Homo sapiens: one gene and its partners. The protein of the gene in region 1 interacts with the protein of each later gene in a biochemical or structural test. Each region holds a gene or a part of one and is shown on either strand. Other genes may lie near its edges.

Region 1 (6,876 bases):
ATACAGGAAGTAGATACAAGTAGAACACAAAAGATGACCCTTTGACTGGAGAAGTTTATGATCTAGTTAATAAAGCAAGACCAGGCCAGGTGCGGTGGCTCACGCCTGTAATCCCAGCACTTTGGGAGGCTGAGGCGGGTGGATCACAAGGTCAGGAGTTCAAGACCAGCAGGCTGGCCAACATAGTGAAACCTCATCTCTACTAAAAATACAAAAAATTAGCCAGGTGTGGTGGCAGGCGCCTGTAGTCCCAGCTACTTGGGGAGAATGAGGCAGGAGAATCACTTGAACCTGGGAGGCAGAGATTGCAGTGAGCCGAGATCACACCACTGCACTCCGTCCTGGGCAACAAGAGTGAAACTCCATCTCCAAAAAAAAAAAAAAAAAAGACCAAAAATGCAAAATAAATAGATCAAATGAAGTGGCAGAAAAAGCTAATCATAAAACTTTCAGCATATAAGTATAATAAGGGTTTCTGAAAAGGAAGAGATTGTTGTGGACTAGAATAGCCAAATGGTTTTGTGGCTTCATGGAAGAATAAAACCAAGAAGGGAAGGTGTCAGCAAAGGACAGTAGTGCCTTCCTAGTTTCATTATATATCGAACCTGCTTAACACATGACATCTGGGAAGAGCTGCAGGGAATGATTTTCACGTATGATGATCTCATCTAATCCTTAACACTGTGAGACAGATTCGAATATCCCCATTTTACCCATGAGGAAATAGGCTCAGAGAGATGTTGTTCATGTAGCTGTTAAACGGCAGAGATTTAGGCCAGACGTGGTGGCTCACACCTGTAATCCCAGCACTTTGGAAGGCCGAGGCGGGCGGATCACTTGAGGCCAGGAATTCGAGAGCAGCCTGGCCAACATGGTGAAACCCTGTCTCTACTAAAAATACAAAAATAAGCCAGGTGTGGTGGTGCATGCCTGTAATCGCAGCTACTCGGGAGGCTGAAGCAGGAGAATCCCTTGAACTCAGGAGGCAGAGGTTGCAGTGAGCCAAGATCACGCAACTGCACTCCAGCCTGGGCAACAAAGAGAGACTCTGTCTCAAAAAAAAAAAAAAAAAAAAAAAAAAAGGCAGAGAACTGGGTCTTTCTGACTCCAAACTTCGTGCTCTTAATCTTCATCCTTCTATGTTATACTGAACAGAAAACAAAATTTTCTTTGGACATTTGAGGGTGAGCTGTTCTTTCTGTTGTGCATTAATGTGTTAGTTGCTGGATTCCTCCTAAACATCAGCTCCTCAAGGCAGAGATTTTAGTCTGTTTTGTTCATGTTGTGTTCCAGTGCCTGGTGCTTAGTAGGAGGTCAATAAATGAACAAATCAAAGGAAATAAATGGGGTGATGAGATAGAGAGTACCTTATCGGGGAGAGAAATGCAATGGCTGGTCACCCCAAGGAGGTGAAGGTAGGGAGAGCAGGAAGCATGAGGAGGAGCCAGCAGCAGCCCTCCCAGGGAGGAATTCTGAACAAGGCTCGGGGGAGTGAAAGAACCTGCCAGCTGATAAATGGCACAGCCTGAGTTCAACTCCAATGCCCATGGTTTAGTCTGAGCTGAACTGGTAGACTAAGGGAAGTGGAGTGGTCTTACTTAAGGAAGGGTAGAAGCCAAGTGGGAGATACAGGTAAGGAAGCTGTGACAAGAAAGGGAAACCTACAGGACAGTGGGTCTGGAGCATTCTTGGCCCATAGGGGCTGGAGTGGCTAAGACAGGGTCGTCTTTGGAGTCTCACGGGGCAAGGAATTTGTCAGCAAGGACCCTGAAATTGCTGAGGAAGAAACTGGGAGAAGAGGAAGAAGATTCTGCAGATTCTGAAATCGTCTAGTGAGTCTGAGCTAGGCCTGGGAGGAAGTGGACAGCAGCGCCAACGAGTTGATGAGAATGACATATGTGGCACGGACACCAAAAGGTCAGACTAGGCTGGGCATGGTGGCTTACACCTGTAATCCCAGCACTTTAGGAGGCTGAGGCAGGGGGATCACTTGATGCCAGGAGTTTGAGACCAGCATAGGCAACATAGCAAGACCCCATCTCTACAAAAAATAAATTAGCCGGATGTGGTAGTGCACACCTGTAGTCCCAGCTGCTTTGGAGGCAGAGGCAGGAGGACTGCTTGAGCCCAGGAGTTTAAGGCTGCAGTGAGCTATAGTCACGCCACTGCATTCCAGCCTGGATAACAGAGCAAAGCCCTATCTAAAAAATAAAAATAAAAGGTCACATTAGAGAGCAGTAGTGTTTCAGACATCCAGGAATGCTTCATAGAAATGTAGAAACAATTGACTTACCCACACAGACAAGAAAGAAGGCAGGAGGGCAAAAGGTGAAGAGATACACAGATAAATTTACACTGGTGTAAACACATGCTGCAAACACGCGCACACACACGCACACGCACATGCACATGCACATGCCAACCAAATCCTAGCATTCATGTGGAATGTTCCTGGCTGAAGACATAACAGCTGCATCTCTGGCCTCCCTTCACCTGCCCCTCCCTTCCCCAGTAGCTTTTTCCCATGGCCTCTCCTCAGTCCTTTTCACTCCACCAAAGCAAACCTAGGACTGCCCCAGCCACTGAGGCCTTGCCCTGGCCACGAACTCTAGCCCTTATCCTGGTTCGAGTCTGAGTGTGGGCCATGCCTCACATGGGAATCAGACTGGGTTTCCCTTGCCCAGCCCTCCAGGCCCCAGGGTGCTGTCTCTGCACCTGCACTCCCCTGTCCACATCAAACTGGGTTTCCCTTGCCCGGGCCTCCAGGTCCCAAGGTGCTGTCTTTGCACCTGCACTCCACTGTCCACATCAGACTGGGTTTCCCTCGCCCGGGCCTCCAGGCCCCAGGGCACTGTCTCTGCACGTGCACTGCCCTGTTCGCATCAGACTGGGTTTCCCTTTCCCGGCACTCCAGGCCCCAGGGCACTGTCTTTACACCTGCACTGCCCTGTCTGCATCTCTTCTGTCTTTCTGTGCCTCTTGCCCTTAGAGCTCCTTGTCTGTCTTTCAGTGCATATACCAGAATGTCTGTATGTCTATGTGAAATCTTTTTGTGGGAATGCCTGAATTTTTACGTATGTGACTTTCTGGTGTCATCCCTAAGGCCAAGAGTGTTAAGAGTTGGGGTGAGAGATGGTAGAGTTTTTTATGTTTGGCTCTCCACATTATATAGGTTCTAGGATATGTCCCTGAAACTACAACGTAGCTCATACATGGGCATTTTTATAAGACTAAGTGTTTTTATGGGTGGACCTCCTGATTCTCTGCCATGAGCTAGGCCTGAGATTTTACAGACCTAGGACTAACTGCAGTCACCTGGACACCAGAGATCTGTAACTGTCAACCGTAAAGAGAGAGAGTATATTTGCTTCTTTGGGGTTGAAACCATACTGACGTAATATAAACAGAATTTGGTCAGCACCATCAGGCAAACATAGTCTGCTCGATAAGGAAACTGTGAGAGTCAAATGGAACTTTTGAAGAATCTAGACCAAGCTGAACTTCCCTGCCATATTCACCCCTGCCTCACGCCTCTCCCTGTTCACCCCTGGCTGGCTGGCTGCATCCTGGGGAATGCTTCTGCTCCATCGGGGTACCCTTCCTCCTCTGCATCTCCTCAAGAGAAGTGTAACCAAGACACATAGAAGAAGCACAGACTAACACACCTTCCCCCATAGTACATCATCTCCACCCTCCACAGCCTCATGTTATGCTCCTGTGTCCTTCACAGTCTCCCCTCCCATACCCTGCCATCCCGGTGTGGGGGCTGTAAATCCAGTTTGCATCCATAAAGAGCCCTGGTGCAAGGCTGGACAGCAATGGCCCTCAGAGAACAGAACAGGCTCAGGAGGGGCCAGGCAGTGCTCGAGCCTCGGGTGAGCAAGCGCAGGGCTTTTCAAAGCAGACCATCTGCAGGAGGGGGACCGCCCTCACTCAAGGCGCAGTCATGTTCCCTTGGGGAACTTTCAGAGCTGAGTGGGCTTTGCCCCCCTCATGTAACTGCTCCCTGGATTTAAGGAGTTTTGATTCCATTTTTTAATGACTTTCCTTCTCCTGAGAAGCATCTGTCTCCATGGCTGCCTCGGGTTGGCTACAGTAGTAGAAAGTATGACTCTACCCTGCTGTCATACCTGGGTGGGAAAAGTCAACAAACGAGTAACGGGAGAAGCAAGGAAGCCCCTGGGGTGGGTTGGTCAGGGAAGCCCCTTTGAGATAGTCTGGGGCATGAGAAGACCTGGCCGTGACCTCAGTGTGTTGTTTCTGCCCATGCTGCCACAGGTTAGCAGAGGAGCCGGACACAGAGGAAGCTCAGGTGAGTACAAAGAGTCCTCTGCCTCCCCACGGCCCCTCCCTCCTTCCTCAGCATCTTCCCTTCCCCTCCCTTCCTGCAGTCACAGGTCCCTAGCCAGGGCAGTCCTAACAGGTGAAGATGCAAGAGCCCAACTGTCCCTTCCCTTTGCCCACCCCAGCCATGTGCCCTCCTTGCCCTGTTTCTAGGCTGTGTCCTGTCTTGCACAGCACTGTCTGCAGGCCTGGTCCTTGGGCATGGCCTGGTGTCCTCTGTGTTGGGATGGCATTGGCAGACCCGACACTGCTGGCTGAAACAGGGTGTGCTGAGCAAGGCCACCTCCCTGGGGAGCACTGCCTCCCATGCTCCTTTCCCACAGCCACTGCCCACTTCCTTCCTGGGATCCAAACCACAGCCAGTGCGTCCCTGGATTCTGTCACCCAGCACTGCACCGAATCACAGTCCCTGACCCACAGACATGTGATTCATGCAGGATCACACTGACTACAGGGCTGACCAAGCCGCTTCCCATGGTGCCCGGCCAAGCTGCACCTTCTCACTTCCTGAAGAAGCAATGCAGAAAAGTACGGACTGCTCCAGTGGCAGATGCTCATTGCCTTTAGGAATTAGTCATTCCCATTTTCCAGCTCAACACCTTAATTCTTTCTAGTCCCAGCACCAAGATATCAGACTTCTCCATTTTAAAATCTTGTCTTCCCTCCCCTCCTCCCACCCCCCCACCTCTTATATTTAAAAATTAGGCATCTTCCTCGAATAAAGAAGTCAGGGCCCTAGCTGCACAATCCAGAAAAGGGGTTTTTTCAGACCCTCCCAAGTCGTGTCATCCTGGAATAGCCTCTGGCCCTCTCTGCCCAACCGCGCCAGGCCATTGAAGGCCTCTGCCCGCTCCCCCGGGGCCCCTGCAGCCTCGGCCTGCGCTGACTCTGGATTGTGCGAGCTGAGGAGAGGGCAGCACCTGGGCCACGCACATTCTCTCGCTGCCCTGGAAATCACAGCGCCCCAGGGGCTTGGAGAGAGGCTTCTCCCTAAACTCACTGTGCACATTCAGGCAAGGCCCTTTCCCAAGCAAGCCTAGGCCGTGGCAGCCGAGGAGGGAAATCAGGAACTGACTCGCCCTGCAGGAGCCTGCCAGAGCCCCTCTCTCCCCGGGGCAGAAGGAACTGGGGTGCAAGGGAACGTGGCAGAGCCATGTGCCCCCACCGCCTTGTTGCACATGGAGGAAACCAATGCCCCACACCAGAAGCTCCATGCCAGAAGCAGAATTGGAGCCGGGTCTTCTGCCTCCTAATCCTGCGCTCTCTGACCCACATCAGGGGTGATGAGAAACACCAACAGCCGAGAGTTAAACTAAGAGTATAAAACTTGGGTGCCGCGGATTCATGGATGCCCAGGCCTGCGCTCTGCTGGCCGGGGGCTGAGGCTTCCTCCCTTTCCTCTTAGTATTCATCGGCACACCTCAGTCCTCCCTGCCCTTCTCCTGGGCCACAATTCTCCCCAAGAAATCACCCCATTCAAACCTTGCATTGTGAACCCAATTCTTTCTTCCACGGAAACACTTCCTGACCCTTAGGAATGATGGCAGAGGACCCTAGGTACCACCCTTCAGCCCAACGCTTGAAAGGCGCCCAGCATCCTAGCAGCCCCTCCCTGCAGGGCCTCCTGTTCACAGTAGATGTTAGCAGCTTTTGTCCTGAACCCTCAACAGTGCCCGTGACTAACGGTGAGTGTGTCTTGCGCAGGCACAGAGGACGAGGAGCAAGCTGGCGCCGACATGGCGAAGGCAAGGTCTTCCCCCAGAGGCACATTCCTCTCCATCTTTCCACCGCACACCTGGACCAGGCTTGCAGGCTGCCAGACGTCACTCCACCCGCCAGGGAGAGGGGAGCCAGAGCCGGTGGGAAGCGGGGAGGGGCTGCGTGGCACAGCTAGTGGGCCTCCCCCTGCACAGCCCTGCATGTACTAGCACCTTCATCACTCCCCTCAGGGCATGGTCTCATCTCCGCATCAGGAATTCACCTGGAGGTTGAAAAGAGAAAAGAAAAAGCACCAAGCTCTTGTGTGTTTGTGACCTGATGAAACACTTCCTGGCGTCTGGCCAGCACGTGGGGTGCTCCTGAACGTGGGGGCACAAGTTTCCTTATCTTTGACCTTTAAAAACCAACAGGTTTCTTCCAGCGTGCAAAGAAAGCGTCAGGCCTTGCTCGGCTCTGTAGACATTCACACCCTGGCCACGGTGCTAAAAATAGTCTCACACTGGTTAGGCTTCCGCCCGCCCCGTGTGATGCCGCCGCCTGCAGCCCGGGAGGGAGGGGCGGAGACCCAGCCGCGCGCCGCAGCCGGGCTGAGCCTCCTCGGAGAGGGCGGGAGGGTCTCTGCGCCGCGGACTCCGTGGCCGCCAGGGGGCGCGCCGCCGGGGGCGCTGCTCGCAGCCTCTCGCCTTAGGGGTCGATTGGGCTCGGGCACACGTGATCAAGTCCCGTTCCCGGTGATTTTCATTTATTTTTTCCTCCTCCCTGGGCTCCAGGATGTTATTTTTAGCAGAAGAACTGCTATAAATATTTATAAAG
Region 2 (2,952 bases), on another chromosome or scaffold:
GGACTATACAAAGTAAAATACAGGTGACACCGGTCGGGTGCAGTGGCTCGCGCCTGTAATCCCAGTACTTTTGGAGGCCGAGGCAGGAGGATCACATGAGGTCAGGAGTTCGAGACCAGCCTGGCCAACATGGTGAAACCCCATCTCTAATACAAATACAAAAATTAGTTGGGCGTGGTGGCATATGCCTGTAATCCCAGTTACTTGGGAGGCTAAGGCAGGAGAATCACTAGAATCCAGGTGATAAGAGTTGCGGTGAGCCGAGATCACACCACTGCACTCCAGCCTGGGCGACAGAGCAAGACTCTATCTCAAAAAAAAAAAAAAAAAAAAAAAAAGTTTTATATGTGAGACTGGTCATTCATTTCTAGCTCTTTAGCCTATACATTTAATATCTGCGGTCCAAAAGGCTGCAAGACATTAGGAAACAAAATATACATAAATATAATGACATATCAGTCACTATTCTGTCAAGACAGAAGGCCTGAACTCAGCCATGTAAAATCAACCTAACACTTAAGTTTTAAGAAAGTCATTACATTTCAAAAAATTTTCCTCTTTATTTAAACATAAAACGCATTTACAACATGCAAGTTAACTTAAAATTAAACGGTGTCTTCCCAAACCAAGTATTTGTGAATGTATCTTCAAGCACTGAAAATAAACCAACATATTCCACAGGTAGACTCAGACTCTCTTCTGTCACCTCATGTCAAATGGAGTTAAGCACAAACTGAGAGTTACGCACAGTAGTTTTCTTAAGTTAGGCAAATAATTTAATTAATCGCCATGAATAAATATTCTCTTTATTTCATTGAGTTTCTCTTCTGAACCATCTATCAATGCCATTCAGAGGAACGTTAATATATCCAGTCAAAAAGACACTGCAAATTGAAATGTGTCAATATCCTAGATGATCAGAAATTTTCATTTTTAAGAGTAAGTGCTGTGTTTAATGACCTACCATAGCAAAAAGCAGTTCACTGAAAACAAATTTATGAAATTCTTGGTACACTTTATGAAAGTCTGAAATTATAAATAGAAAAGAACCATCAAGATACTTTTTAAAAACCTAACATTGTATATTCTGAACCACATGCTAATTAAAATTCGTTGTTCATTACACAGCACCAATACCCATGATACATCTTACAAGAACAAAACTAACATATTTGGAAAAAAGAGAAAAAAAAATTCTGCTTCATTTACGAATGTTGCCAAAGGAGGCAAGTTTTCAACTGAAAACAAAACATAAAGGTCTATGTGGATGCAGCCAAATGTTTCTCCATTTAGAAAATCATCATAAAAGGTGGCAGCACTTTTTTTGCTTGTTAACTATATTACTTATAACTGGCTGCACCAACATTTCATCTCAATTTTTGGAGTGTTTCTTCTGATCAATCCTAAAAGCAACACAATCATTTTAGAGGTTGCAGACTACAACAGCAAAGATTTTTGACTATTAAAAAAATAAATAAATAAATTTATATTTTAAATCAAAATTATTACAAAAGTGGAAATTACAATAGTTACGGAAATAGAAAAATAAGCCAATTATGATCTGAGTCTTCTGACTATGGCTCCAAATTTAATACAAATATCTGTGTATAAAACTTTTGCAAAAAGTTAATTCTGCCAGCAAGATCCTAACACAGAACTTTCCAAGTTTCTCTGCTAACCTTAAATCCCCATTCTCTGTGAATTTCTGCTAACACAGTTGCAGTCACCGCCCCCCTACCACTGATGAAGCAAATAGTGAAATCTCTTTCCCTATTACTTTTACAGTTTCCTAAAATAAGCTGTTGACTTACTTTAATCATCTGAGGAAAAAGTGGCAAAAATACGTATACACTTAGTACTGATTACAAAATTATCGGCTATGGCCAAGAAAATAATTTATCTAATGATTATTAGTGACTTGCAAACAATTTACTATTTCTAGACTAAAGAAATAAATTAGTGTACAAATTAGTGTAGCAGGTTAAAAACACCTCAGGGATTTCAGACCAAAATTGACCTATATATATTTTTAATTCATCATATATCTGTCCTGTTTCTTCATTTTTCTCAATTTCCACACGCTATAAATTTAGGTCGGCCAATAAAGTACTAACCGTATAAAATTATGTTTAATCCTATAATATCTTAATTCATTTTACTAATATTAAAGATGACAAATTATTACCTGTCCAATACTTATATTAGCTAGCAGGCTCACCAGAATAAAGCAGAGTATTTTAATTCCATCAAGACTTGTTGAGTACAGAATCAGGAAAAAGAGAAATATAATTCCTTTTCCAAACTCCCTTAAACTAAGATCTGCTTTTGATACTTTAAAATATTTCTATTCAAAATAACTCGGCAACAGGCATTTCATGAGATAACAAGTAGCCTTGCTCAGTCTCAAATGCCTATTAGGCATTTGTAACGTTTCAGTGCTCAAACAGTAGTTTTCAGGAGCAAACTTCAGAAACAATACAAGTAATTTTAACCCTGATATCATCATTTCAAGGGATTTTAAAATACAGTACTGACTGGATATATTTTATGGGCATGTAGTGTTGTTAAGTGGTAAAATTTAAAGACATTTAACCTAAATGTTCCATTTTCTCTTAAGAAAAAAAAAGGAAGACGTTTTAATAGGAAAAGAAAAACAAGAAGCAGTAGCAGCTAGGTAATTTAAACTGAGATTAAAAAATAAACATACACAAAAAATACAAAAAGTACAGTCCTATAAGGTACAGTTAGCTTGGCACAGTAAAGACTAAATTTAAGACACGATAGACAAACTGTGTAATAAATAGGGCCACAGTTGTAAACTGTCCTTTTTCCCTCCTAAGATGCCAAAATTGCACTCTAGTTGTGTTGGGAAGCAGCAGAGTTTACAAGAAGAGTAGGTAGGAAACAGCTGTACAGGCCAGGTATAATTTATACATTTTTTTTAAAAGTTAT
Region 3 (7,041 bases), on another chromosome or scaffold:
ATCATTTTTTAAGGAATTGACAAATGAGACTAATGTACATTCCCTGTCTGACAACACAGAACGAACCAGGAAGAAAGGATTTATGGGGCCTGAGGTTATACAATTGGGGGTGCTATTTTAAGAAAAATAATAGAAAATTGGATACAGCCTTGGGAGGGGCCCCTCATGTAAGTAAGGCTTTAATAGTTTCTTGGGAAATCACCTCTGTATGAAGAGATGTGTTGACATTTAATCTTTTCCCAGTTACATTTTAAAATAAAATTGATGCTAGTTATATTTCTTTAGAGCATTTATTATTTCTCAAAGACAACCTTTTATTTAATGCAGATTAGAGAGTTAAAAGAATTTATAATGGTAGGAATTTGACATTTCTGCCTTTCATTCTGAAAAGATACATTGATTAAAGTGATGTCAAACTCAGTTAATGGAGGCGGTGCAGTTATTTGAAATATACAGGGTATATAATTTGAAGGCACGCCAAATCACAATGACAAGGAATAATGATGACCTTGGTTTATTTTTATACAGTACATTCAGGTTTTGATTGGATTCAGAGAGAGGCAATGGTTTTCTTTCTCACAAAGTCCTGCTATAGTCCTAGGAGGTTTGTGTTCTGTTATCAAGGCAGTTGGTTCGTATTGGAATATTTTCTGGGGAAGGTCATGGGCTGCAGTGTGGGAAATAAACGTTTTTATTAAATGCAACCAGGTTTCATGAAAATATTTCCCCTTGTAGAGTGTGCTCAATGCAGTATACTGATCTTCAAAAAACAAACAAACCAAGCAAATAAATAGTTTGTAGTCTTCACCTTTTCCCTACGTAAAACATCTATTAGTTAGACTTCCTTGGGGTTTCATGCTATAAAATATTGACATATGTTTGGAGTTCTGAAGTTTCATTTTAATACAGATATCAAAGTTAAAATGGCAACACCATGGGATAATTTATTATTTTACCAAGTTTGGAGGGTTTTTTCTATTTATGTCACTTATAGAATTGTCCCTAAAATCCTTGCAAAATTTCAAGCTCCCTCTACTTAATACTAAAAGTGAATGTGTCTTCCAGAGATTCTGATAACCCCTTCGAATGGGAGAGTAACTCTGCTATTTGTGAATCACTCCTATACTAAATATAGTTCCAAGATTAAAAGCTAAAATGATTTTGTTTATTTTTTCATGAAATTTTTTCATGAAAGGCTTGATAGTATAAAAAGTCTGTTTCCCTCATATATTACAGCATATTATAGCATTCAATGTGCCTTCTTAAACCAGATGGCTCCTCTAGAGATTATGAAATACTTTAACACCCAGGGCATAGCCTTTCTGTTTCCCCATTCAAGATTACTTCCTTGAATATGGCCCAACAAAAAGACCAAAAAAATACATTTGGCTCCAGCGTTTTAAGGGCATATAAATTTTCTTAAGCACAATTCTGATAGGCAGCAGACAAATGAGAATGAGGAAGGGAAATGGCTCTGCTGTCTTATGCTTAAAAGTGTCCTCATATAGAGAGAAACAACACACCCTGGGGCCTTTCGGAGGGTAGAGGGTTGGAGGAGGAAGAGGATCAGGAAAAGCAACTAATGGGTACTAGGCTTGATACCTGGGTGATGAAATAATCTGTACAGCAAACCCCTATGGCACAAGTTTACCTATGTAACAAACCTGCACTTGTAGCCCTGAACTTAAAAGTTAAAAAAAAATAAAATAAAAAGAGTCCTCATCTCACGGCCATACAACCTCTACCTCATTCCCATTAAAAACACAAAGATCAGTACTCCCTCTTTTATAGCTCACATCTTCTGTTTAGGCTGCCATTTTAAGGGATAATTTCTATTCAACTCTGAGCTCGATCTTTATTTTAATCTGATATCACTCGTTCAAAATACTTGGGAATTTCAGTAGGCAACGGAACACACAGAGCAATTTTCTGGAGGCCTACAACCTCTGAAGGTGACTTTGCGTAGTATATGTAATGATAGTAAGCCCTGAGAAAACCAATGTTCTTAGTAGTCTGGATTTGGTTTAGAAATCAATGTATTCCTGCTTTCTTTTGTGATCTTTTGCCTTCTCCCTCAATGCCTCACTTTCACTCTGTCATTATGAACCCCATTCCTCACTAATGGGAACTGGGGGAGAATGGACAATGATCCTTTAATTGAAATGGAGTTGTCATTTCCTTGCCATGCTGATAAAATGTTGTTGCTGTTGTTGTTTGTTGTTGTTCTTAAATGACTCTTTCAGAATTTTTAACTCAGTATTTTGATTACATACCATTTTAAGAAAATAATTGTCCATAAATTAAAAATGCTAGCAAATTGATGAATTGATTTTCTCATGCCAATTTGGAAATCTGAAATATATCTAAGACTGGTGAATAATATGTAGGTCTAATTGCCATTTGAATAAAAGAATCTGAGGAAGAGCTTTGCCTTTATTTTTGTTTATTATTCATTTTAGTTTAGTTATTTATTTTAGTAGAAAAATGTGGTTGTGTCAACGAAGAGGAGGTACATTAAAATGCATTATTAAAGCCAATGCTTATCCATGTAATGAAATGAGAATGTAGATGGCTTAATGGGTTTTGGAGAGGATTAAGATAATTTTAAAGAAACTTCAAAAAATCAGATGCTCGAATCATGATGTTTTTTGTTTATATTTAATAAATATGAAAACCATACATGGGCATATCAACAATGAGGAATTCACATATATATCACGAAGTCTCTTGCTAATTTGTCAACTTTTAAATGTGTTGTCTTCACTATCATGAAAATTTTGATTTTTAAAAAAGGTCAGTGTTAGCTGAGCACAATTACCATTACGGTGTCCCATATTATTTCCAATTATGGGCAAATAAAATGCTTACCCTTTAAATGTTTTTACCCTCTTCTTGGCTTTTGTTTTGTTTTGTTTTAAAGCGTTCTCCCTTCTTCCACTCTGCTTTTGGCTAAGACTGTCATGGAATCAGGACTATAAAAGGGCATAAACATCAGTAGCTTTTTTCTCATTCCTGGCACTCATCTTTATTTGCACTCAACTTGTCTCTTCCTTTATCAGATTACGGTTGCAATAGTACCTTAGCCTGAGCTAAGTGCTGACTTAAAGGGCAAGGGAGTCAGTACACTGTTACAAGTGCAGATTTTAGCCTTGGAAGCTGTGTGAGGAAAAATTAAAGAAATAAGAAAGAAAAATCACAAAATCAGAATGGCCCACGTATTTTCATCAAAGGCAAATTGAGTAATTCCTTTTTATGTTGGTGCTTAAGAACGATGTATTAGAAATAAATTGGTGACTAAGTGAACAAAATATTAATAAACTAGTTGAGTAAGTGAAAAAATAATAATCTGTAAAAATGATGAATCCCAATGACTCACATGTTGCAAAATAACTAGGAAGCAAAAGGGAAATTAGACTTTAAAGAGCGTAATCAGATGCAAGAAATGTTGGCTTGTAGGTGGTTAACTAAAATCGCTTACGGGAAGCTCAGACAGCTGGGGAATCCTGATTTAGTAGACGCTGAAGGGCAGGGCATGAGCCATGTGAACAGCTGCTGAAGAGCTAGAGGATTCCTTTGGATTAGGTGTACACACCCCGTCTCTAATGGGCTGTCAGAGAGCACCAAGTGTTATCACAGAGGTTCACTTTGCTCAAGCCTATGGCTTTTGCAGTGTTTTACTTTAAATGTCTGAAAATGGATTGGCTCTCAAAATAAATCCAAAAATAAAAGTATCAAAATAAGTGACTCTCTAAAACTTGTATTGTGTGGTTTTGGGTGACCACAGTTTAAAGAAGGGACTTACAGCTGATGATTTGTTATCCATTTATTGATTCATTTGTCCATGTAACAAATACACATATTGAGTGCCCATTTTGTGCCAGGTACTGTGCTATGCTCTGGCGATAGTATTCTAAACAAGTGAACTCAAAGAGAGACTAGCATTTCAAGGAGGATGTGCATATTAAATACACACACACGCAAACTACTTGCATTGGAGATAAGGGCTATAGAATAAAGCACACATTGTAATAAGAATGTATAATAGGGAGAGTTAGACCAGTCTTCGAAATTGGGGAAATACTTCTGAGAAAAAAAAAATATTCAAAGCAAGGCAAAGAAGAATGAGGTTAGAGTATAGTTGTCCAAAAGAAAAGAGGGAGCAAAAATGTCCCTGTCAGAGGGAGCAATGTTTCTGAATGTGGAAAATGGTATGGAGAAAGATCTAAAACAAGTACAGCTTTCCTAGAGTACAGTGAGGGCAGAAAAGTGTGGAACAAGCTTGCATCTGAATGGCCGACTGGGGTCCAATCATTCAGAGCCTTGAAGGTTATAGAAATTATTTTTCTCTTTATACTAAGATCAATGGACAGCCTTATGGGTTTCAGGTAGAAAACTGATGTAAACATATTTGTATTTTTTAAGACTATCACTCTGTTTTGTGTGAAAGAGATTGGCAAGTGCCTAGGGTAGATGAAGGACTATCAATCTGAAGCAATTACGGTAGCTCATCCAAAAGAAGGTGATTTGGACTAGAATGGGGACAGTGGAGATGAAAGAAGTAAATCTATTCAAGATTTGTATATGAGATAGAATCAATAGGAATTGGTGTTGTATTGCATGCTGTGTGCTCCATGAAATGCACACCTGGGTGGATAATGGTGCCATTTGCAAGGAGATTGGAAGGGAAATTGGAACAACAGGAAGGATTAGGGGTGTGGATGCTAAGGTGTTTGTTTTGTTTTGTATTTTTATGTAGCGCGTGGGTATTGTGCCTAGAAATGAAGTCATTATTAGGGATTTAAATATGCAACTCATGGAGTGGATGAGACCAGCTAGAAAGATAATAGAGTGTGAAGAGGAGATCGGAAATTCAATAAAGAAGACAAAAGCACTAAAAAAAAAAAATCAGAGAAGACACATCTAGAAAAAATGATGAAATTCTAAGGAAAATAATATTTCCATAAAGAGGTCTGTTCCTTTCGATCTCCAATTTAATGACTTCATGAATGAGGATCCCACTTTTAGCATTAGGTGTCTTGGTTTCCACAGTCTCTACCATCTATTTACCCCTAATTTCCTCCCATATTGCTATTTCTGTGAATATTACCAAAATGTTGCCTTAGTAGAAAAGCTTCAATAAATATTTAAATTGTATAACGTATTCAGCTTTTTCCTGTACTCTGCACTTCCTAAAAATACCTTCTTCGGAAACCCCATTTCAACTGACTACTGTATAATGAAATGAGCCTTCAGTGTAAAACATTTATCATAGTCTCAATTTCAATTGCTCAGTCAGAATTGTTGAGTAATATGAAAAATCATCCTTTAGAGAATACAGAATTGCATAGTTATGACAAGGTAAGTTTGCACTTTATTTAATGCTAGTTTAGTTAATATAGATGCTTATTGGAGAAATGTCTAAAAATTCTGGAGGACCGTTAGTGAAAGTGATTATCCCAATATCTGCAAAAATGGTAAAAATACCTAGAAAACATTGACATTTCAGTTTAAATAAAGCCAGAATCACAATAAAGAGATAGAAGGCATTTGAGTAATTCAATCTAATCATGGATGAATGTAATGTACTTATCAGTTAGCTTTGGAGGAAGTAAGACTCGATAGAATAGTAATATGATATTGAGCAACTTTTTTTAACATTAGGTTTTTAATTGCTTATAACTCAACATTGTTGAACACCTATGTTCTCTTTGCTTTTTATGAGACAGCAACTCTAAGTCAGAGAACAGATACACACACATATGTATATGCGTACAACTACTATAAAATATCAAGAAAGTTATAAAGCATGGTACAAATCAATCATAAATGATTACTTATGAATAGTGTGATTATGGACATTCTCATTGAAGAATCCATTTTTATAAATAGGCATAAGAGTATGGACATACAGAGATGTGAATTAGAGAATGATTGCAAGAAGCAGTGAGGCAAAAAGGATTAATGAAACATTGATCTGTCTTACATACACAGCTATTGACAGTACCTTGTGTGTGCATAGCACTATTCTAGATTCACCTAATCTTCAATGATAATACTGTATTTACCATTTAACAAGCCTGTAATAAGTGTCAGGCACTTCTCTGATTACATCACATACATATGTGATAAGTTCCATATTAACTCTAGAAGGTGGGGAAACATAATCATCTAAATTTACCAGATGAATATGTAGAGGTACAGGGAGATTAAGTAATTTGCTTAAGGTAGCTCAGCTGGTACGTGGTAGAGTCAGGATTTTAATGGTGGCAGCATGACAGTAGGATTAAAGATTCTTAACCAGTCAGTTGTCACGATCTCTCAGATTTTAATAGAATTCTAAAAAGGATAGAACAAAATATAAAATGGCAGGAATCATAGTATCTTCTAACAAGAACTAGACATGTCCCATTGAGGATGCTCTTTAAAAATAAAACCCATTAAAATTTTGGGTTGTTTACTCAAAGCCTATAGACATTGGCATATTATATTTTCTTAGATAAAAACTGAGATATCCTAAATAACTCATGCCCATTCTCTAGACTTGCATAGGGAGCTGTCTATGATAATATCCATAACAGTTATCTTGTTTCACAATTTTATTACTATCTCACTCTTCTTACTTTGTGAAGATGAAAAAGATCAAAAATAAAACTAATGCAGCCCTGGTTTGTTTGTAATCATCTACAGTTAGCCATCCTTAGAGTGGTCTCACTAGTTGTTCTTTTAGAGTTTATTTCAGTTATGTACAGGCAACTGTGCTACATGAACAAAAAGCTAAGAACTGGGCTAACCTGAACATGATTTAGTATTGTAAAAAAATGGTTTACATAGATTAACGTGCCATACTATTCTGAATAGTACTTGGCATAAACAGTAGGTTATTTAAGTTACTATAATTACTGTTGCCTTTTTACATAAACTAATTTTTCTCTTATCTTCATTATGTTAGTCATCCACAGTGTGATATTTAGTTGCATACATTCATATAGTGTACACTGTACAATTCTAGAGTGTACCAGTAACGTGGACTATTAATATTAT
Region 4 (7,041 bases), about 24 Mb from region 1:
ATAAACTAATCTTTATTTTATTTCTTTGCATGTTTTTTCTCTTTCATTAGAATGCTGCCTTTCTGTAGTAATATTGAGAAACATTTTACTTTGTCCATATCTTCTTTCCATTTAACAATATTACCAAAAACAAGCAAACAAAGAAACTAAAGCTCAATTTATTCAACCAAAAATGGTTATTTATCTTCATTTCTTTACATTTAAGGGCACTGAACAAATTCTATCCCATTTTTCCCATAGGAAAAAAAAAAGTACATTAAATGATTGAAAGAAGTTATCTGTATTCATTTTCTATCGATGCTTAACAAATTAACACAAATATAGTAGATTAGAGACACACATTTATCCTCTTACAGTTCTCTAAGAACTTGTCTCTTAGGGCTAAAATCAAGGTGTTGGCTGCTTTCTCCTGCAGCCTCTGGGGGACAGTCTGTTTTCTTGGCTTTCCCAGCATCTGGAGGCTTTGCCCTTGTGCTCTGAGCTCACCTGTGCCAGAAAGCTCCAGCCACCGCAGCTTTGGAAGCATGCCTCCCTCTCTGCCCTCAGAGTGGAGGATCTTGTATGAAGCCTGGATCACCAGCCCAGCCTGTTCAGGAGAGCTCTCTCTGGGGTGTGTTCCTTCCAGCAGCACAGCTTAGAAGGAAGGTATAGGGTGGAAGTTCAAAAGGATCAAGATATTTTTATTTCCAGAAGGTTATTGGACTCTTTGTGCACTGGCACCTGCCACAACAAGTGAGGGGAAGCTCCTTGCCTTTTCTATTTCCCTTATATTTGTGTGACTAAAAGAGGCTACTCTAGTGTTTTTAATTTCCTTTTCTTAAAAACACAAACAAACAAAAAAAAAGTCTGTCCCTAGGGGATTTTCTTTCCTTCTCACTCAGACAGAAGCAGCAAACATACGGTGTCTGATTTCACCCCCCTACATCCAGCATCATACACAGATGAGCAAACCCTTCACTCAGGAAGGGGATGAGTGATTTTTCTTTCAATATTTGTAGAGATGGAGTCTCTAAATAAGAGAGCAGTGTCTGCTTGGCCTACCATTGGAGCCTGATTCTGCATAACGATTCCAGTCACCTGCGTGTCCCAGTGGTTTTTTGTCTTACTTAAGAGAGTTCTTTTGGAGATCCCACCCACAGGCTCTGACCTTATGGAATATTCAAAGCTGATGCAGTCCCCAGCGCTGTCTCTTCCATTCCACTAGCATCCATCAACTCAGTCAGCTCAGACACAGCCCTGAGCAGTAAACTGCGTCCTTGGGGCCTTTGGTCCAAGCCTCAGTGCTTTTTCTAGCTTTGCCTTCTGTGCTTCAGCCACTGGATTCAGATTCCATTGTCCCATCTGTGGGGGCCAACGTGAAGCTTTAAATAAACATGTAAACATCTTTTATTTGTTACAGCCTGTGACATTATGATTACATCATTCTCCACCAACAATAAGAAAATTTACATTACAATGATTTGTCCCATTGAGTGTGTAGCACGAAATTCTCATGGAATTTAATAAATGGTCATCAAGTTGACCCATTTAAAAAAAAAAACTCACAGAATTTTGAAAACCACAGCATGGCAAATCATTATTGGAGACAGACAGTGCAATTAACACAGTGAGGTGGCTGAGAAGTTCCACAATAGCAAAAGTATCCCGCCTTCTTCAATCTACTTTTCTCCAAATCTATGCAAACAAAGAGTGTTTAAAAAATATAACTTTTTAATATCAAACACATTTTGGGAAATGCTGCTGTGTTGATACCATCACATTTCAGTAAAACTTCCATGAAAGTCACCGACGCTGAGCATTTCAGTAGAACTTCCACGAAGGTCACCGATGCTGAGCATTTCAGTAGAACTTCCATGAAAGTCACCGACGCTGAGCATTTCAGTAGAACTTCTGTGAAGGTCACCGATGCTGAGCATTTCAGTAGAACTTCCATGAAGGTCACCGATGCTGAGCATTTCAGTAGAACTTCCATGAAGGTCACCGATGCTGAGCATTTCAGTAGAACTTCCATGAAAGTCACGGATGCTGAGCATTTCAGTAGAACTTCCATGAAAGTCACCAACGCTGAGCATTTCAGTAGAACTTCCATGAAGGTCACCAACGCTGAGCATTTCAGTAGAACTTCCATGAAGGTCACCAACGCTGAGCATTTCAGTAGAACTTCCATGAAAGTCACTGATGCTGAGCATTTCAGTAGAACTTCCATGAAAGTCATTGATGCTGAGCATTTCAGTAGAACTTCCATGAGAGTCACTGAGGCTGAGCATTTCAGTAGAACTTCCATGAAAGTCACTGATGCTGAGCATTTCAGTAGAACTTCCACGAAGGTCACCGACCCTGAGCATTTCAGTAGAACTTCCATGAGATACACCGATGCTGAGCATTTCAGTAGAACTTCCACGAAGGTCACCAACACTGAGTGTTTCAGTAGAACTTCCGTGAAAGTCACCGACGCTAAGCATTTCAATAGAACTTCCATGAAGGTCACCGACACTGAGCATTTCAGTAGAACTTCCGTGAAAGTCACCGACGCTGAGCATTTCAATAGAACTTCTGTGAAGGTCACCAACGCTGAGCATTTCAGTAGAACTTCCACAAAGGTCACTAACGCTGAGCATTTCAGTAGAACTTCCATGAAGGTCACCGATGCTGAGCATTTCAGTAGAACTTCCACGAAGGTCACCGACGCTGAGCATTTCAGTAGAACTTCCGTGAAAGTCACCAATGCTGAGCATTTCAATAGAACTTCCATGAAGGTCACCGACACTGAGCATTTCAGTAGAGCTTCCATGAAGGTCACCGACACTGAGCATTTCAGTAGAACTTCCATGAAAGTCACCAACGCTGAGCATTTCAGTAGAACTTCCGTGAAGGTCACCGACGCTGAGCATTTCAGTAGAACTTCCGTGAAAGTCACCGACGCTGAGCATTTCAATAGAACTTCCACGAAGGTCACCGACGCTGAGCATTTCAATAGAACTTCCGTGAAAGTCACCGATGCTGAGCATTTCAGTAGAACTTCCATGGAAGTTACCAATGCTGAGCATTTCAGTAGAACTTCCATGAAAGTCACCAACGCTGAGCATTTCAGTAGAACTTCCACGAAGGTCACCGATGCTGAGCATTTCAGTAGAACTTCCACGAAAATGACTGACACTGAGCATTTCAGTAGAATTTCCATGGAAGTCACCAACGCTGAGCATTTCAGTAGAACTTCCATGAAAGTCACCGATGCTGAGCATTTCCATAGAACTTCCATGAAAGTGACCGGCGCTGAGATGGAATGACTCCTGTGAAACCCTCACAAAATGGACCCCCCCCATGAAAGAGGAACCATGAATATTTACCTGATAACAAGAAGTACCACAAAAGACCCTGGCAACACCACAAGCTGCACAAAGACCACTGCAACCTTGTGCAAAGACAAGTCTTCTATGAGGACACAAGCTCCCCTTGCTATTGATCCTTGTAGCCAAGGATAACGGTTTCAAAACAACTTCTGTAACCTCCTCACTTTGCCTTTAAGCTTTCCTGAATCCCAGCCTCTTTGGATATCCCTATAATCTCTTATAGCACATATGTCCCAGCTTGCAATTGCCTACATAGTCCCAAATAAACTTTGGGAGAGCCTCTCTCTGTCATTGTATTAGGCTGACACTCCCTAACCCAACATATTGGACTGTTCATTCCACACTGTTTCCTGCACAGAGAGCCAGCAGGTGCCCTTTCCTCTGCAGGTGGAAACACATCAGCCCATGACCGACATGTGAACACAGGTGAGGAGTGCAGCGAGGGATCCATACAGGGTGTCCCCAGCTTAGAACTCAACACAAGTATTTTGTTCAAACAAAATGTCAAAATGTGATTTCAATCAGCTCTAGTTAAAAATTCATAATTCAAGATAGCCTTGCTGGTAATACTTGGTTAGAAAATTAACCAGACCAGAGATATCATGACTCAGCTTTTGGCTGAATTGAAGATGTTCAGTGAAATGCCCACAGGATGCTTGTTTATTCAGTATCTGGATCATGACATAATGGATTGAGTATTGTTTCATAAGCTTTAATTTCATTCCTGGCTTTCAGTACTACTCATTGAGTTTTAGTGTGGAATTTAGTGGTGTGACCGATTTCACTGCTAGCTAGTAATTTCTTTTATTTTCTTTTTTTTTGAGACAGAGTTTCACTCTTGTTGCCCAGGCTGGAGTGCAATGGCACAATCTCGGCTCACTGCAACTTCCGCCTCCCGGGTTCAAGTGATTCTTGTGCCTCAGCCTCCCAAGTAGCTGTGATTACAGGCACCTGCCACCATGCCCAGTTAATTTTTAGTATTTTTTTTTTTTTTTGGTAGGGACAGCATTTCACCATGTTGGCCAGGCTGGTGTCAAACTCCTAACTTCAGGTGATCCATCTACCTCGGCCTCCCAAAGTGCTGGGATTACAGGCGTGATCCACCATACCCAGCCATTGCTAGTACTTTCAAAGATTATGCAGTGTAACTTCAACTTATGGTACCAAAAACTATTGATGTTGTTTTGAATATGTGCATTATTACTGGTAGCTGTTTGGCTTCTTATTTCTGTGCATTGTGCTATTATTGGATACATCTTGGGAACTTGTAAAGCAATTTTCAGTTTCTATGTATAAAACCAAAACCCTGGCCGGGCGCGGTGGCTCACGCCTGTAATCCCAGCACTTTGGGAGGCCGGTGCTGGCAGATCACGAGGTCAGGAAATCGAGACCATCCTGGCTAACACATGAAACCCTGTCTCCACTAAAAATACAAAAAAAAATTAGCCAGGCATGGTGGTGGGCGCCTGTAGTCCCAGCTACTTGGGAGGCCGAGATGGGCGGATCACGAGGTCAGGAGGTTGAGACCATCCTGGCTAACATGGTGAAACACCATCTCTACTAAAAATACCAAAAAAAAAAAAAAAAAAAAAAATTAGCTGGGTGTGGTCACAGGCACCTATAGTCCCAGCTACTCAGGAGGCTGAGGCAGGAGAATGGCGTGAACCCAGGAGGCGGAGCTTGCAGTGAGTGGAGGTTGTGCCACTGCACTCCAGCCTGGGCGACAGAGTGAGATTCCGTCTCAAAAAAAATAAAATTAACCCAAAACCCTGAAGCATGAATGATATGGTCATTATGGCTCTTTTTCTCCAAAAGTCCCTTTAAAGCTCAGTAATTGCTATTTGGAAACACATACATACATTGAATTACAATATGTGCTAAGTTTGCAAGAACCTTGTGTTTCTTCTAGAAAGCTACTTGGTTTTTTTTTTTTCCTCTAACAGGGATAAGTCAAAATGAATAAAAGATTTTGAGTACAGTCTCACGCTTTGGGTATGATTGGCGAATCCAGCTTGAATTAAAGTTTAACACAAGGGCTGGGCAGGCCCTGGGTTCCACTCATGACCAGAGTGAGGGATGCTGGTTACCAAGTGTAATGACGCTTTATGAAACTACCTAAAGACTATGAAGCTTTGGCAGGAGAATACACCTCAACATCTTGAACATTTTGCTCATCACAATTTGAAATGATCAAAATAATTAGTGTTGTAGCTGTCAATGTTAAGAGTCATTCACATGCATAGGAAGGAACTTAATTCAAATTGGAATAAAGGAAAGATGAAGCCTTTGGTTGCAGTCACTAGGAGGTTGGGGGCAGCTCCCAGCATGTTGGTACCCAATGTCCCCCAGTGTTCTTTGTGTATCCCTGCATGGGGTGTTCCTCTGTGTTGAAGTCCTCTTCCGGCAGGCTGGCTCGCTGGCTCTCCACTTGGCATTAGTGGTATTAGAACAAGCTTCAGGTATTCACTTCTCACAGCTGGTCACACCAATGTAGGCATCTTGGCCTCCCTCTCCCTGTCATCTGTACCAAGCTGCCACTGGGCTCTGGCTGGTCCAGCTGGGTCCTGTACCTATTGCAAGAGAGAAGCAGTTTCTAAAAGAAAGGCATGCAGAGAGGACCAGGGAGAGGCCGAGGGGACTTCATGCTGTCAGGGAAGTTTGAAGTCATTTTTGAGATGTCACGTCTTTGAGTTATAAAGAAAAGCAGCTCCGAAAAGCTGAGATGGATGTTATTGGGGAGGGAGGGCTTTACCCGGTGATGTGTGACCTCCAATCCTGCCTGGGGCCCCATTCTCCACCCCCTCATTCTGCCATGGAATGAAAATGACCAAGATCCTGCCTTTCGAGAGCTTAAAGGAGCATGTCTGTGGAACTGACAGGCCTTAGCGTTGCTCTTCTTCTTGAAAATGATTTATCTTTCTTTCTGGTGTCATCTCAGCAGTTTAGAATATGCTAGAATTTTGGTGAGATTTAGAAAATAGGATGTCAATCAATTAGCAGTCACCTCAAAATAAATTTTATTTTCTTCATTTTATTGAATTTTGTTATGCAAACAAAGAAGAAAGACAACATTAGAAGAATGCACTTAGACCTTCTTTTCTACCAATAGAATGGGGGTGGCAGGACGGCAAGATTCGTATTTTACCATCAAAAACAGGAAGATGATTTTTCCCCAGTAACTGAATAACTTCTAAAAACAGTTTCTTTAACTTCTGTGTCAGCTTTGGGGTTCACTGTGGACTTTTCTGTTGATTTGACACAGGGACTTTATGTGGGGCAGTTTGTGGAGAGAAGATGAACCTTTTGTGGGTCATTTTTGCTTTTACAGGACATTTAGTGTCTGTAACATGCGGAGGTAAGGATCCAGGAGTTTGTTTCAGTTTTTTTATTGGGAGGGGGTAGGGGTATAACCGTCTCTCTAGGAAACTCTCCCTGGGGCACCCTTTCCTGCTCTCCCGTAGCCATGGGGACAGGGTGGGTGAACAAGGCCCCTCCTCGCTTCCCGCCGTGCTGTGCACACTGCCTATTCTGCGCCACACAGCAGGCGCTGTTCCTCCCAAGCGTGGCCTTGGCATGAAGCCCACACGCACCCACACAGCAGGCGCTGTTCCTCCCAAGCGTGGCCTTGGCATGAAGCCCACATGCACCCACACAGCAGGCACTGTTCCTCCCAAGGGCGGCCTTGGCATGA

What was found.
Region 2: the proteins of DTNB (region 1) and KIF5B form a complex in vitro, tested with the Homo sapiens proteins (one study listed by BioGRID).
Region 3: the proteins of DTNB (region 1) and DMD form a complex in vitro, tested with the Homo sapiens proteins (one study listed by BioGRID).
Region 4: the proteins of DTNB (region 1) and SNTG2 form a complex in vitro, tested with the Homo sapiens proteins (one study listed by BioGRID).

What each region holds. Positions count from the first base shown.
Region 1 is NC_000002.12:25,376,726-25,383,601, reverse strand, and holds the end of DTNB (dystrobrevin beta), read left to right. Parts: intron 1-4,278; coding exon 4,279-4,283; coding exon of another isoform or gene 4,284-4,312; intron 4,313-6,048; coding exon of another isoform or gene 6,049-6,272; 3' UTR 6,273-6,359; downstream 6,360-6,876.
Region 2 is NC_000010.11:32,008,475-32,011,426, forward strand, and holds the end of KIF5B (kinesin-1 heavy chain), read right to left. Parts: 3' UTR 541-2,952; downstream 1-540. UniProt on the Homo sapiens protein: Microtubule-dependent motor required for normal distribution of mitochondria and lysosomes. Can induce formation of neurite-like membrane protrusions in non-neuronal cells in a ZFYVE27-dependent manner.
Region 3 is NC_000023.11:33,201,531-33,208,571, reverse strand, and holds part of DMD (dystrophin), read left to right. Parts: intron 1-7,041. UniProt on the Homo sapiens protein: Anchors the extracellular matrix to the cytoskeleton via F-actin. Ligand for dystroglycan.
Region 4 is NC_000002.12:1,359,817-1,366,857, forward strand, and holds part of SNTG2 (gamma-2-syntrophin), read left to right. Parts: intron 1-7,041. UniProt on the Homo sapiens protein: Adapter protein that binds to and probably organizes the subcellular localization of a variety of proteins. May link various receptors to the actin cytoskeleton and the dystrophin glycoprotein complex.